2 separate regions of the Homo sapiens genome follow, and region 2 is linked to region 1. Evidence: fine-mapped expression QTL. Tissue or cell type: fetal neocortex. Region 1 holds a variant in brackets; the other region holds the start of a gene. All regions are shown on one strand. Distances are from middle to middle.

What was found. PIP is the estimated chance that this variant, and not a neighbour inherited with it, causes the effect.
Region 2: EDN3 starts here. The variant in region 1 is fine-mapped to the expression of EDN3 in fetal neocortex (Walker 2019, PIP 0.95).

What each region holds. Positions count from the first base shown.
Region 1 is chr20:58,962,086-58,970,189 of GRCh38, reverse strand. It overlaps LOC107985382 (a long non-coding RNA gene), which reads left to right and starts at 2,336. Exons shown (of 4, transcript XR_001754727.2): 1 at 2,336-2,415; 2 at 8,032-8,102. RefSeq lists an enhancer at 3,992-4,544. The variant G/T (reference allele first, on the strand shown) is at 3,580.
Region 2 is chr20:59,297,086-59,305,189 of GRCh38, reverse strand. EDN3 (endothelin 3) reads right to left here and starts at 4,579. Exons shown (of 5, transcript NM_207034.3): 1 at 4,326-4,579; 2 at 3,468-3,780. The coding sequence starts at 4,377.

The DNA of each region.
Region 1 (8,104 bases):
AATCAGATTGTATTTTGTTTTGTTTTGTTTTTGCTGTTGTTTGAGCTTCTTATATATTCTGATTATGAATCCCTTGTCAAATGGGTAGTTTGCAAATATTTCCTGCCATTCTGTGAGTTGTCTCTTCATTTTGTTGATTGTTTCCTTTGCTGTTTAGCTTGATGTAATCCCATCTGTCTATTTTCACTTGCTTTTGTTGTTTGTACTTGTGAGGTCTTACACAAAAAAATCTTTGCTTGCCCGAGACCAATGTCTTGGAGCATTTTCCAAATGTTCTCTTTTAGTAGTTTCATAATTTCAGGTGTTACATTCAAATCTTAATCCATTTTGATTTGATTTTTGTGTATGCTGAGTGATAGGGGTTTAGTTTCATTCTTCTGCATATAGTTTATCCAGTTTTTCCAGCAGCATTTGTTGAAAAGACTATCCTTTTTCCATTGTACGTTCTTTGTACCTTTGTCAAAGATGAATTGGATATGAATGTGTGGATTTATATCTGGGTCCTCTATTCTGTTCTATTGGTATATTTGTCTGTTTTTATGCCAGTGCCATGCTGTTTGGGTTACTATAGCTTTGTAATATATTTTGAAGTTTGTAGTGTGATGCCTCCAACTTTGTTCTTTTTGCTTAGGATTGCTTTGGCAATACAGAGTCTTTTGTGGTTCTATATAAATTTTAGGATTTTTTTTTCTATTTCTGTGAATGTCATTGGTATTTCTGATAGCGATTGCATTGAATCTGTAAATTGCTTTGGATAGTATTGTCATTTCAATACTATTAATTCTTTCAATCCATGAGGATGGAATATCTTTTCACTTTTTTGTATGTCCTTTTCTATTTTTTTCATTGGAGTTTTATAGTTTTCCTTGTATAGACCTTTCACTTCTTTGGTTAGATTGATTCCTAGGTATTTAATATTCTTTGTAGCTATTATAAATGCGATTGCTTTCTTGATTTTTTTTAACAGATTGTTCGCTATTGACATATATAAGTGCTACTGACTTTTGGATGTTGATTTTGTATCCTGCAAATTTACCAAATTTGTTTATCAGTTCTAATGGTTTTTTGGTGAAATCTTTGGGTTATTTTAGGTATAAGATCATGTTGTTTGTGAACAAGGCTAACTTGACTTCTTCCCTTCCAATTTGGATCCCCTTTACTTCTTTCTCTTGCCCAATTGCTCTGGTCCAGTTTTTCAATTTTTAAGACAGCTAGAGAAATGTGAACACTGGTTGACTATGCTGATGGTATTAAGGCATTTTTGCTAATTTTTTAGCATGATATTGGCATTATGATTAAGTTTTTAAAACTCCTTACGATACGTCAGAAGTATTTCAGAGGAAGTGACAGAATATTTGGGATTTGCTTTAAAATAATCCAGTGGAGGGTGGATGTACAGATGAAACATGATTGCCCGTTTGTTGATAATTGTTGAAATCCAGTGATGAGTACATAACATTTTTTAAAAGTACAATTTTTCCACTTTTGTTTGTTTTAATTTTTTGTCACATATGTGTATATATATATATGTATATTTTCCTAACGAGTCCTCATGGAGGATTTTTCAAGCTCAAATTGGAGAAAGGCTGCTTTTGCCTTCATTGTAGGGATGGTCAAACATCAATCTGAAGGGCCTCCTGCCGTGCTTCCTGGCATGATGCATATGAGGTCCCAGGCGGAGAGGATGAGGGCATTCCATAGGGAGAAGCAAAAACGAGCGGAGAAGACAGAGGGTCAGACAGTGTCCTGAGTCCCTGGGTCCTGGGTCCAGTCCTTCCAGAAGCCACCATGACTCTGTCCTTCCTGCTGAGGTGTGCTGGTTCATTGCCTCCCACTTGCCCTTTTTTCTCTTTCACTTCAGGTCATTTGAATTTCAAGACTCACCATTGAAAAAGGTCCTGACCATTACAGGGACCCTCCTTTGCTCCAGTCAGGAGTGGCCTGGGAGTCAGGATCACCTGGCAGAAAGTAAGGCAGAAAGTAAGGCAGTGTCTCTGGACGGGTGCCCTGAAGGGAGGTTTGAGCAAGGCGGCCCCTTACGGTTTCTGCACCTGGGTGCGGAGTACAGAGGCACTTCAGGGAGGACTACCCAGCTCCTGCCTTCCCTGAGAACGGCCTGTCCCCCAACGCTTTCTAAAGGGACAGTGCCAGCTTCTGTGTCAGCGTTCCATGCCCTGATCTCACCTGGCCATGGCAGATTGGACTGGGGTGGACCCTTGCCCCAAGGCTGGGCAATTAAGTTCTCTTTCCTAGGTATTGAAACTGGGACCAAAGACTGCAGTTCAGAGACGTTGGTGGCTGCAGCAGAGAGGTGGTGCAGGGCTGGAGCTGGGGAGTCAGACACCGCTGAGCTGCAGGGCCGAGGGGTCATGTGGTTCCTGAGAGACACCACAGTACACTCTTCTGACTTACTAGGTACTGATTCTTCATGAGTAACTGCATTTTTGACCATTGTTGCCATGAGGTCCCATTCCTTTGTCCTTCCAATTAATTCCTTTTTTTGCTTGACCTAGCTTGAATGAGTGAGCAAATGTGTCCTAAGATTCTAAGAAACTTTTAGAACAATCTCACTTGTGTCATTTTCAGTTATTTCACTCTTCGTAATATAATTTCAATGTCTCTTACCTTTATATTCAGCTTTATTGGAGGAAATTAATTATTAATAATTCCATACTATGTTACATTTACCTAATCCTGTTGATAAATACTACTGAGTGGCTTGGGGACTCCTTTAAATGAAATTTTCAATTTATCGCTTCCTTGCTGGGTTGGTAAGGAAATTTGGATTCAAGAACTAGGCTGGGCGTGGTGGCTCACATCTGTAATCCCAGCATTTTGGGAGGCTGAGGCAGGTGGATTACCCAAGGTCAGGAGTTCAAGACCAGCTTGGCCAACATGCTGAAACCCAGTCTCTACTAAAAATACAAAAACTAGCCAGACATGGTGGCATGCATCAGTAATCCCAGCTACTTGGGAGGTTGAGGCAGGAGAACTGCTTGAACCTGGGAGGTAGAGGTTGCAGTGAGCCGAGATCGCACCACTGCACTCCAGCCTGGGCGACAGCAAAACTCTGTCTCAAAAAAAAAAAAAAAAAAAAAAAAAAAAAAGCCGGGTGCGGTGGCTCACACCTGTAATCCCAGCACTTTGGGAGGATGAAGCGGGCAGATCACTTGAGGTTGGGAGTTCAAAACCAGCATGGCCAACATGATGAAACCCTGTCTCTACTAAAAGTACAAAAAATTAGCTGGGTGTCGTGTCATGTGCATGTAATCCCAGCTACTTGGGAGGCTGAGGCAGGAAAATCGTTTGAACCTGGGAGGTAGAGGATGCAGTGAGCTGAGATCACGCCATTGCACTCCAGCTTGGGTGACAGAGCAAGATTCTGTTTTTTTTAAAAAAAAAACAAACTAGATAGTAACCTAAGTAAATAGACAATTTTGGCTCACGCCTGTAATCCCAGCACTTTGGGAGGCCAAGGCAGGCAAATCACGAGGTCAAGAGATTGAGACCATCCTGGCTAACATGGTGAAACCCCATCTCTACTAAAAAAATACAAAAAAATTAGCCAGGCATGGTGGC[G/T]GGCGCCCGTAGTCCCAGCTACTTGGGAGGCTGAGGCAGGAGAATGGCATGAACCCGGGAGGTGGAGCTTGCAGTGAGCCGAGATTGCACCACTGCACTCCAGCCAGGGTGCGAGTGAGACTCCATCAAAAAAAAAAAAGAAAGAAAATAGAGGATTTATCATAAATTCCCTTTATGTGGAAACAAAGACAGGTGGGCAGGGAAAACAGCCACAGGCTGTGGAATGCTGTCAGGACTCTCCTCATTCTGCATCTGCTGCCGTCTCCCTCTCTCAACAGAATGTCCCATGCATTTCAGTTTACATAGCAGAAAGTATCAACAGTGCCTATATCCAAGCCCCACCATTTAATAAGTTATTCAGGTGAAGACTGAAAGCCAGTAGCACAGTGGCTCGCACCTATCGTCTTAGGTACTTGAGAGGCGGAGGCAGAGGTGGGAGGATCGCTTGATCCCAGGAGCTGGAGGCTGCAGGGAGCTATGATTGGGCCACTGCACTCCAGCCTGGGTGATGGAGCAAGACCCTGTCTCTAAAAACAAACGAACAAAAACCCATGCAATATTCTAGCCTCGAGTCCAGTATCATGCGTTAGAGACTCTGATAACCTAACCTAGATGATGGGTCTATTCCTGGATCAAGAAAATGTGGCCTTGGGGCAAGAGAGGGCTACCAAAGACACGAAATGGCTACCAGGAACTCACCATTGTTACAGCGCTCTGATTGACGAGCTTGAGTACTGTGTATTGTGTCTCTCAGCAAGCACATTGTAGCCACAGCCCTGCAGCTAAGCGGTGTCAGACTCCCCAGCTGCATCCCTGCACCACCTCTCTGCTGCAGCCACCAGCATCTCTGAACTACAGTCTCTGGTCCCAGTTTCAATACCTGCGAAAGAGAACGTAATTGCCCAGGCTTGGGGCAGGTATCCACCCCAGTCCAATCTGCCATGGCCAGGTGAGACTGAGGCATGGAACGCTGACACCATTCCTTCAACTGGGGGAACAGGCAGTTCTCAGGGAAGGCAGGAGCTGGGTGGTCCCTCCCCAGGGGCCCCCTGTGCTCAGCGCCCAGGTGCAGAAACTGCCAGGGGCCGCCTTGCCCAAACCTCCCTTCAGGTCACAATATCTTGAAGAGACCTGTCCAGAGATGCTGCCTTGCTTTCTGTGACCCAGCTCCCAGGCCACACCTGATTGGAGCAAAGGAGGGTCCCCGTAATGGTCAGGACCTTATGACCTGGAGTGAAAAAGAACAAAAGGGCAGGTGGGAGGAAATGAACCAGTTCCCCTGAGCAGGACAGACAGAGTCACGGTGGCCTCTGGAAGGACTGCACCCAGGGACTCGGGACACTGTCTGTGCATACACACACACACATATATAAGCATATATACATTAGCATATATAGAAGCATACATATAACCAAGTAAGTTGTTGGTATTATTATTTTGAAGAAAGTGCTATCTTTTAAATCAACTAAGAATAAGAAAAATAGAAATTGTTACTTTACATTGACTAATTTCTTCTCTGATGCTCTTCTTTTCCCTATGCAGATCCAAGAGTCTGACCTATACCAATTTCTTTTTCTCTAAAGAACTTCTTTTAACATTTTCTGCATGACAGATCTACTGGCAACAAATTTCCTCAATTTATGTTTGTCTGAGAAACTCTTCATTTCTCCTTGACTTTTGAAGGACAATTTCACAGGGTACAGAATTCTAGGTTGGAGAGTTTTTTTCTCTCAACATTTTACATATTTCACTCCACTCTCTTTTTGCTTGCATGGTTTCTGAGAAGCTGGACGTAATTCTTTGTAAGAATTATGAGGCAGGATTTTTTTTCCTTAGACTTCTTTCTGATTTTTTCTTTATCTTTGATTTTCTGTAGTTTGAAAATGGTATGTCTAGGTGTGGGTTTTTGTTGTTGTTGTTTTTGTTGTTTTTGCATTTATCCTGTTTGGTGTTCTCTGAGTTTCTTGGCTCTGTGGTTTGGATCATGAATTTGTAGAAACTCTCAGTCATTATTATTCCAATATTTCTTCTGTTCCTTTCTTTCCTTCTTCTTCTGGTATTACACTATGCATCTGTTACCCCTTTGTAGTTGCCTCATTGTTCTTGGATATTTTGCTCTATTTTTTTTAAGTCTTTTTTCCTATTTGCTTTTCATTTTTGGAGGTTTGTTTGTTTGTTTGTTTTTGAGATGGAGTTTCGCTCTTGTTGCCCAGACTGGAGTGCAGTGGCACAATCTCGGCTCACTGCAACCTCCACTTCCCAGGTTCAAGAGATTCTTCTGCCTCAGCCTCTTGAGTGGCTGGTATTACAGACGCCCGCCACCACACCCAGCTGATTTTGTATTTTTAGTAGAGATAGGGTTTCATCATGTTGGTCAGGCTGATCTTGAACTCCTGACCTCAAATGATCCACCCACCTCGGCCTCCTAAAATGCTGGGATTACAGGCGTGAGCCACTGCGCCTGGCCTCATTTTTGGAGGCTTTTACTGAGATATCCTCAGGCTCAAAGATTCTTTCCTCAGTTGTGTCCAGTCTACTAATAAGACCATCAAAGGGATTCCTTTTTTCTGTTACAGTGTTTTTGATCTCTAGCATTTCTTTTTGATTCTTTCATAGAATTTCTAACTCTCTGCTTACATTGCCCATCTGTTCTTGCATGATGTATACTGTGTCCATTGGTGCCTTAGCACACTAATCATGGTTCTTTTAGATTTCTGTTCTGATCATCCGACATCCTTACCACATATGAGTCTGGTTTCGATGCTTGCTCTGTGTCTTCAAACCATGTGTTTTTTTTGTTTGTTTGTTTGTTTTTTTGCCTTTTAGTATATCTTGTAATTTTTTCTTGATTGCTGGACATGATGTACTAGATAAATGGAACTGTTGTAAATAGGCCTTTAGTAATGTGTTGGTAAGGTGTAGGGAGAGGAGAAGCATTCTGTAGTCCTATGACTAGGTCTCAGTCTCTCAATGAGCCTGTGTTCTCAGACTGTGAGTTTCACAAGTGCTTCTCAGTCCCCCTCTCGTCTTAGGGGGATAGAACAGCCAGAGTGGGCTGGAGTTGGTGATTTCCCTTCTCCCGTGTGGAAGGCTGGGGCCACCTAGGTTTTGAGTTTTTTTGCTTTGTTTTGTTTTGTTGTTTTGTTTTTGGCCTGGGTCAGTTAGGTTCTGATAAAAGCCCAGCTGGTTAGGCTCTGGTTAGTTTCTCCTGTTGACAGACCTTGTAAAAAAGAACAGAATGCCCTGGTATATTTCAAAATGATTCCTTTTCCCGTCCCTCTGCCAGGAGCCTGAGGGGATTTTTCTCTGACATTCACTGTGAGGACCCAGTAGCGCTCCTGGAGGTCAAACACAGAAGTGGCGGCGGGGGGTTGGGGGGGGGCACCCTGACGACTGGGTCCCCCTGGCATTTTTATCTCTTAGACTTGTTCGCATGGAGCCCCCAGCAATTCCTGACTCTCCGTTTGGCCTCTTTCCTTGCTTTTCTTTCTGTAGTGGACACTGTGGTGCTCCAGCCAGGTTCTCTGAGAACCCCTGACCAGCTTGGCACATGCATCTCCCAGCTTCTGAGGTCTGTGTTTCTAAGGGCTTGCACTTGCGACTATCTTCAGTCTATCTTGGGTTACTGATGCCACCTCCCAAGAACTCCCCAAGAGCAGAGATGCTGGAAAGTTTATATGTCCTTGGGGCAGAGTTCTTAGCCAATGACTGACACATGCAGGAGTATGAAAACCAACCTCAACGTAGGACCAACTCTGAAGTGTAATTTATGCTCTAGAGATACCTAGAGGATCATGATGAAGTGAGATTTTGCAAGATATGACACCTCACTTCACTAATCAACTTCTCCTGGGAGTAAATAATTATTTGCACGTGAATTGTCATCTCAGGGTCTGCTTTAGAGAGAACCTGACCTAAGACAGTCATGCTTGCACTGCACAGTGCATATGTATTCATTCAGGCTCTTTGAGCTATAAGAAGTAGAAAACGGGCTGGGAGCTGTGGCCCACGCCTGTAATCCCAGCACTTTGGGAGGCCGAGGCGGTTGAATCATGAGGTCAAGAGTTCGAGACCAGTCTGGCCAACATAGTGAAACCCCGTCTCTACTAAAAATACAAAAAATTAGCAGGGTGCGGTGGTGTGCACCTGTAATCCCAGCTACTGGGAAGGCTGAGGCAGGAGAATCGCATGAACCCGGGAGGGCAGAGGTGGCAGTGAGCCGAGATGGTGCCACTGCACTCCAGCCCAGGTGACAGAGTGAGACTCCGTCTCAAAAAGAAAAAAAAAAAAGTAGAAAACCAAATATTGGCTAATGTATCTGGGAAGTCTGTGGGCTGACCCAGCTTCATGCATGAATAGGTCCAGAAACTCAAACAAGAAATTAGGAACCTGCCTCGTCCTGTATTGCTTCAGTTTCTTGCTCTTAGTTGGCATCCTCTTCTCTAATGGCAGGCGGACTTTGTCTACACACCAGGGAAGATGGCTTCAGGCAGTCCACATACTCCCATGCCTATGACACAAAGGT
Region 2 (8,104 bases), 340 kb before region 1:
ATCCCATTGATGAACTGTGATCCCAGCAGCCTTGACAGGGTAAGTATAAATTTGGTTCCTCTTTGGGGCGATGGACTTTTGGGAAGATATCACAGAAGTTATGGGCAACATCCCCAAGAAAAACTCTCTTGCCCACCCCTGTCTACAGGGATGTGCAGGCCCCTGAAGAGCAGCCAGGCACCTGGAGAAAGAGGCCTCCTGTGTGGGAGAAGGCACTGGAGATTTAGGGGCTCAGCAACAGCAAAGATGAGCCAGAGTACCCAGGTGGCAGGACTTAGCCAAAAGTCAACCAGCATTTCCTGAGCATCCATGCCATGCTGGGTGCTAACAGAAAGGGCCGACCAAGCTCGGGTCTGGAAGGACTAAGGAGGGGAAAAAAGCAGGAGGGCTAAAGGGACAGCCGAGGAATCTCAGACCTTCTTTCCAAAAGAGACTTAAGAGACCAACTAGTCTCTTGAGCCTGAACTAGACAGTTAACTTCCCTTGAGGAGATGCAAAGCGGGTCTCGGTAGTAACTCCCAATATGACTCCTGCAGCATCTCAGATCCTCGAAGGGAGCAAAAATGACCGTACTCAGAGCAATTTCCATCAAAGATCAACTAGGAGTGTTGATTCTGTCTTCACGCAGCTGGATGCGCCATGGGAGGAAAGGCTCTGAAAGGTGAAAAGCACCCAAAGTTCAAGACCCCTGACTGAGGCACAAGAATCAAGGCTCCTTCTCGTGCCCAGAACAGCTGCCGCTGGGACAGGGAGAAATCACACCTGGTGGAGAAGTTTGGAGAGGGAGACCAGTCCATGAATGAAGAGGGCGTGACAGCAGGAGAGGGGAACATGTGACAGGTGGGGTTGTGATCTAATGGGGAGACAGAACCACTAGAAAAGACTGTGTCCCTCACTTCCAGTGCCTCTTTTGCTCAATTCAGTGATTTTTTAGATTCCTCCCCATCACTCCTGTTCCCTGTCACCACAGCCCATTTTCTCAAATTGCAGTCTTGCCTGAGATATTTTAAAGATGACAACAGACCTATCTACACATCTACAGAGTTTCAGGAAGGAAGGGAAGGAGGGAGGGAAAAGAAGGGAAAGGAAAGAGGGAAAGAAGGGAGGGGGAGAGGGAGGGAGGGCAGGAGGAAGTTTGGAGGGTAAGAAAGAAAGGAGGGAGGCAGGAAGGGAGGGAAGGAGGCCATTTGGGAAGTTCTGCCTCATAAAAATTATTTTACCTGTCTAATTTCAAAATGCTCAAGTCTGGCTATTGTCGTTTTTGTTTCCCAAGTAGCTCAGGGGATGCCCAAACACCAGATTTAATCCTTCTTTCATCATGTTTAAATTGAACCAGTGTCGGGAAGGAAGGGAAGAGGTAAATCACACTTCAGGGGGAAAGTTATCAAGTTGGCTGTCCTGGAAAAAGTCAGAGAGCCACAGCTTCATTTCAGGACAAACTCGAAATCATGAGACAGGACTTCAAACAGATCGCAGGATGCATGAGACAGAATTTTAAACAGATCACAGGGTGTTGGTTGAGACTCTCAGACATGTCTCAAGTCATCACTTCCTCCCCAGCCAGTGCTCCGGGGTTTGGTAAACAGGCAACGAATGAAAGAGATGGTTTCCAAATCCTCTCCCACCTGCCCACCACCCCAGGTTCCTGTCTGTAATTCCATTAGCTTTCTTCTTTCTCCTTCTAGATTCACAGCTGGGGATTCTGGCCAAGACAAGAACTCGGTTCCTGGTGACTGCCCAGTGCCCTCCATTCTATGAAGTGAATTTGATCAGAGCACAATGATGCAGGATAAGAATCAGAAAGGGCAGTGCCAAGGTGCAGGGGCTACAAGGAAAGGTGACTCCCCTCGCTATCTGAGGATAAGAGGCAATTGATGATGGCCCAACACTCACAGCTTCTATCTTCCCCACAAAGGGAAAGAAACAGGGAGGCACCTCCCATCCTCTAGGTGGACACAGCCCAGCCAGCAAATCAGGGTATCACGACCAGCTACAGAATTTATGGGACCCAGGAGAAAATGCAAATGTGCAGCTCTTTGTTCAGAAAGTATTAAGGATTTCAAGACAGTGACAGCAGGACTTTAAGCCGAGCCAGAGTCTTTCTGAGTGCAGGACTTTGTGCACGTGTCCTGCTGGCTCAATGTGAAGCCCCTGCCTGCCCTTCAAGCATGGTGGGGTGATGTTCCAGATCTATCATGGATGTGATTAGAGGTCTTGTCCCCTGGTCTGAAAGACATTCCACCCCTCAGGTTTACTACCCTCGTCTGCACTTCATTTTTGAGGTGCCGATGACACAAGGTAGGTAAGTGAGCCCCATGAAAGCTGCTACCAAGGGCTCAGAGGTTATGGGGCTTGGGGATAAAGGTGACCGTGAGGAACCTGAATCAAGACGGCTCCGGGACACGGTGGCAAAGGTGCCTTTCCAGGCTTCCAGGGGCTTGCATTCACAACCATCTCTGAGTTCTCAGCTAAGAATCCCTAATAGGGTACAAGCAAGAGTCCCAAGAGATCCCATGAACACCCAGGGAACAGAACTTAGAGGTGTCTGATCCAAGTCCCAGATCTTAGAGATGGGGAAGCCAATGCCAGAGAGTTGGTGACCCAGGCAAGGTCAAGCCCTCTGTATGGCCTGCAAGATGATGTGCCTGCAGGAGGGGTTCCCTGAACACTGGGAGTCATCAAAGCCTCCCCCTGTCAGAGCCACACTCTCTCCACATGGCCCCAGGAGAAGGCTGACTTCCCCACTGGACGAACCCCAAGACAAATTCAGGATGGTGCTGTCTAGGCCCTAGGGTAAGAGAGTTTCTAAGGACTGCAGGAGAGAAGGGAAGGCCCTCTGTGACCATGGCAGTGGGTGACTGGAGCCAGCCTGTGGAAGGCCCAAGGACGAGCTGATGTGAATTCACCCTGCCTTGGCATCCAGGGGGGCCCACAGGAAGGAAGGGAGCCCATCCCAGGGGAATTCTACCCCGAGTGGACTGTGCAGGTTCTGTCAGGCTCAGCTAAACCCACCCTTAGACTCCCTGGAGACCAGGATGCTTTCAAGGAATTTTAAACCCCTTGGATCCTGGTGGGGTCAACAGTGAGTATGAGCCCCCTTGGCCCCTGGGGAATGAGATAAACTTTCGGGGCTTTCTCTATCTCAGAAAAGAGGCTCAGAGAGACATCTCAGGTATCTAATCCCCCTGGTCAGTTCACTTCATTCAGAGGGAGGGCTCCTCCTTCCACAGGATCAAACTCAGGATTGAGTTTCTCTTGGGCCAGGCCCTCAGGGGGGATGTGGGTCACACCCCTGACCTGCAGAAGAGACCTGGGCTGGCAAGAGGCCCCAGCAAGAGCTAAAGGCTGTGCCAGGGCAGGCTCTGGGCTAACTGAGCGGGGCTGGGGTGGAGTGAGGTCCTCCTGGGAATGAGCAGATGTGGGCCTGGTCCGGGAGCCACGTTCCTCACCACAAAAGGCTGACTTACTCGGGAGTGTTGATCCAAATGATGTCCAGGTGGCAATAGTAGACACACTCCTTGTCCTTGTAGGTGAAGCACGTGCAGCGCCTGGATCGGTGGTGCTCAGGGGCCCCCTCGGCCGCCTGCTCCTGCCCAGGGCTTCCAGGGCTTGGACCCTGCAGTGCTGTCGGGGCCACAGTCCCCTCGCCAGGGCCAGCCACAGTCTCCTCGCCAGGGCCAGCCACAGTCTCTTCACAGTCCCCCTCAGATCTGGCTGCAGTGGGGGCCTGGGACACGCCGCGCCTGCCAGCATCCCCAGACTGGGAGCAAGGCACGAATCCTGCAGAAGGCAGATTGAGGGGCTCCTAAGCTGAGTGTGCAGACCCCTCAACACCCGCCACCCCCAAACACCTGAGGAGGGGGGTGGAGCAAGCAAAATGTCTGCAAAGTTTCCAAAGCTCTGCGCAGTTTCTGAAAAGTTTCCAAGCTATCTGCACACTCTGTGAAAAGCTTGCAAGCTATCTGCACCCGTTGAAAACTTGCATGCATTTTGCATACTTTCTGCAAACTTTGCCAGGGTTTGGCACAGCCTCTGAATAGTTCGCAAACTTTCTGAAAAGTCCCCAGTTTCATGAAAAATTGACCAAGTCGGCCCAGGCAGCAGGTCTCCAGCCAGTGCGCGGGCTGCAACTCCCGGAGCCCGTGCGGGTAGTCGTTGCGCGCCGCTTCTGCTCCCCAGCCCTCCCCCAGGCGTCTTCACGAGTGCAGAGCCCAGGCAAGAGTTTGCTCCCCGCGACGCACATCTTCTCCGCGCCTCGGGTCCCCCGCCCTGGGTCCTTTTGTGTGCGCTCGCGCCAGGAGAGGCGCGCCGCCCCGTGCGCTTACCTGCGGCGGAGGTCACTGTGAGCCCGAAAAGGAGCCACAGCCCCGGCTCCATGAACCTAGATCAGGCGCCGGAGCACCGGACCAGGAGGACGGCCGCTTGTGGCCGCGAAAGGGCACTGGGGCCGGGTACAGCTGGCCTCGCCCTCCAGCTGTGGGGGTTCGAGGCCGGCCGATCGCTCGCTGCGTCTCCAGCTCCGGCCAGGAGTTGGCTGCGGCGGTCATAAACTTTCAGAGCGCGCTGCCCATCCCTGCGCGGAGCTGGCCGGCTGTGGCTCGGGCTTTTCTGGCTTCTGCACCACCCCCGTCGCCTCCCCGCCCCCCAGAGGGGCTGGAACTGCCTCGCCGGGCCTTTGAACCCGGGCGCACTGGGGGTCGCCTCCCAGGCGCTGGGGGGAGCTGGCCAGGAGCGCAGCGGCCCGAGGCGCACCCAGGACAGCGAGGGGCGGGGGCGGCGTGGCGTGGCGCGGCTGGGTGGGGTGGGGTAGGGTGGGGTGGGGGCCGGGACAGCTGCCAGCTGCCGGAAGGCCACGAGAGCGCGCGCACACACGCACACGCGCGCTCACACTCACAGGCGCACCCCCGCCCGCCAGTTCGCCGCTCCGGAGTAGCAGCCCCCCATCCAAGAGCAAGAACAGATGAGAAAAGGCTGTGCTCAAGGGGTGTTATCTTTTCTATCAGGGGCTGAGGGAAAGACACATTTCTCATTGTTCCCCGAGTGACACCTTCCCCTTGAAGAGCCTGCTTGCCAAGGAACTCGGTGTACTTTACACTCTTGACTCACGCCTCGGGCTGGCTCCCTACCTCTCCCAGGAGTTCAGAGCCTGCGTGTGGGGCAGTGGCCTGGGAGCAAAGTCAACAAAGATCCTGGGTTAGCGGTCCTGTGGTGTCCAGGGCTTCCTCAGCCATCTGCACAGGTTGGGTGGCTTCAGGTGAGAGTCGGGCTCCTCTCCCTAAAGGCCAAGTTCATTCACACAACCGTCCCTACCAAGGGAAATGACCTCCCAAGAGAGCCCCCTACTTCCTTCATAGCCTTCCAAGTCCTGTGTGTGGGAGGCTGTCCCCATCTCCAGCTCAGATAAAAATGTCTGAGACTGGGAAGTCCTCCTGACTTCTCAGGGCACTTGTGGTCAAAGGACCCTCCTTTCATAACAGATGGGGTTGGGGGAGGGGCAGTGCTTCACATCTGTAATTCCAGCTCTTTGAGAGGCCAAGGTGGATGGATTGCTTGAGCCTGGGAGTTCAAGACCAGCCTGGGCAACATAGCGAGACCTCATCTCTAAAAAATGGGGTTGAATTGGGTCCTGCCCTCTACTAGCCTTAACGACCAGCTTCTGAAAACTAGAAAGCAGCTGAAGTGACCAGAGCAGTTTCTGAGGACAGTCCAAAAGAGTGCTACAACATCCCCCTGGCTTGATAGCTCAGGACACCTGTCCTCTGAACACAGCTGCTGTACCAGGAGGAAGCCCTAACAAGCCCACCTGGAGAGATCACCTGGAGAAACCTACGTGGAGAGAAACCGAGGCCTCCCAGCCGACCACCAGTGTCAGCCACTGACCTGAGTGAATGTGCCTTCCGATGATTTGAGCTCCCAGCCCTCAAGACTTCCAACTGAGGAATAGCTGTCCCGCTGTACCCTGTCCGAACTTCCCACCCACACAATCCATGAGCATAATAAATGGTTGTTTTACAGCACTAAACTCTGGGTAAATTGGTACAGAGCTGCAGTAACTAGAGTAGCACTCAAGCTTCCAGCACTGAAGCTGATGCTGAAGTTCTCCATCCCCCCACTCCCATCCCATCCTGCCTAGCCCTTGAATCCAAGTGTTTATTTGTTTGTTTTTGCACTTGATGCTTTGAAAATAAGAAAAACCCAAGACTCACAATATCTTCTGTTCCTGCTGGGCTAGAATTTGGATCATTTTAGTATTATCTTTGTTTGTTGGGGCTACTATAACAAAACGCCATAAGCTGGGTGGCTGATAAACCGCAGAGTTTTATTTTTCACATTTTTGGGGTCTGGAAAACCAAGATCAAGGTGCTGGTAGATTCGGTGTTTAATAAGGGCTCGATTTCTGATCATGGATGGTGACTTCTCACTGCATCCTCAGTTGTGGAAGGGTCAAGGCAGCTCTCTGGGGGTCTCTTTTCTAAGGACACCAACCCCATTCATGAGGGCTGCAACCCTCATGACTTAATCACCCCTCAAGGGCCCCACCTCCTGACATCATCACCTTCATGGATAGGATTTCAACAGATAAATCTGGAGAGGACAAATATTCAGACCATAATAATTACTATCTCTTTGGAATTAAAATTTCCATCTTCAACAAAATAAAAAGTTCTTGGATTGGGGGATGGCTGGAGGAATAGAAAATATACTAATCAGCTAAAAGGAGAAAAGGAGTAGGAGGAGGTTTCCGGGTACCATGTTCAGACACAGGAGGTATCATGGCTGCTTAGACCACTCTCTGGGTCTATGGCCTTCAGTAGCTTGAAGCCGACCACCACTTGTCTTCACTGGGACTAAAAATCAACAAACCCTGGATGAGCCTCTCAGGCACCAGGAGGTGCTAGCCAAATACCAGGATGGAGCTGGCCCTGCCCTCTGGGTCTTCTACTCTAGTTGAGGTAAGGAAGTTCAGAAATAGATCGCCAAGGATCCAGGATGCTGAGAACATAAAACGCCGCACAGAGCTAAGAGAAGAAGACAGTGTGTTCAGCTGGATGATCAGAGGAGGCAGCATTGTCCTTGGTCCCTAAAGCAAGCCGGGCGCCATGATTTGAGGCAGCAGCCTGCAGTGACACTCGCCAACACCAGCTCTCAAGCGAAAGAGCTCCCTTTCCTACTGTTCTTCTGGCTTCTGACGATGGCCAGGGCAATGACTCGATGTGTCTTTAACAGCTCTCGAACAGAGAGAGAGCTGTACAAAGGGATTTTTGAACAAAGGGATACAAAAGGAATGTAGCAGGCCATAGGCTTGTACAAAGGGATAGCAGGCCATAGGCTTGGAGCCTTTGTCAGGCTGTGGAATCGGGCTTACTGTGCATGGTAGTGATTGACATAAAATTCCTTTCTAAATTAATACACTTAAGTCAAGTAAAGGTAACCTCAATTACAATATGAAGTAATTCATTGTAAAGCCGGCTTGGAGACTTGGCAAGATCACAAAGCCTTCTGGGTTCCAGGCTAAGAAATGTGCAAAGGAAATATACAATTCATGTAACTCAATGGCAAGCTGGTGGTTTCCATCATTGTTTTGCCCTTGTGACAACTCAACAAAATTTATGCTAACATTATCCCCATCTCACAGATTAAAAAACTAAGGCTCGAAAAGGTCAAAGTAACCAGCCTACAACCATGCATCTATTAAGTGGCAGTCTATCAGGATTCAAATTTGACTCCACATGATTCCAGGGACAGAGTTCATAATGCTTAAGCAGCGCTGCCTCTGGAACTCATACCCAAGGTTTTAATGGTTCCCATTTTCTTCTGTGTATCATTGACAACTCACTGCCTCTCCATCTGTCTAGTTTCCATTCCATAATCTCTGATGGAAGGTCATGTAAAGGAATGATGACCTCTACAGAGGACACGAATGAATAGGCATTCTTCTCCGCAGACGTCTGCCAATATTCCTTGATCCTCCTTCACTGCCTCAGCATCCAATGTGCCCCTAGGAGAAGTCATGTATCAGGACACTGCTGGGGCTCGGCCAAGTGCACGGCTTGGTCATTGTGTTTATTTTTCCTCAACTTTTTCCAAGTCAGCAGATGTGCGA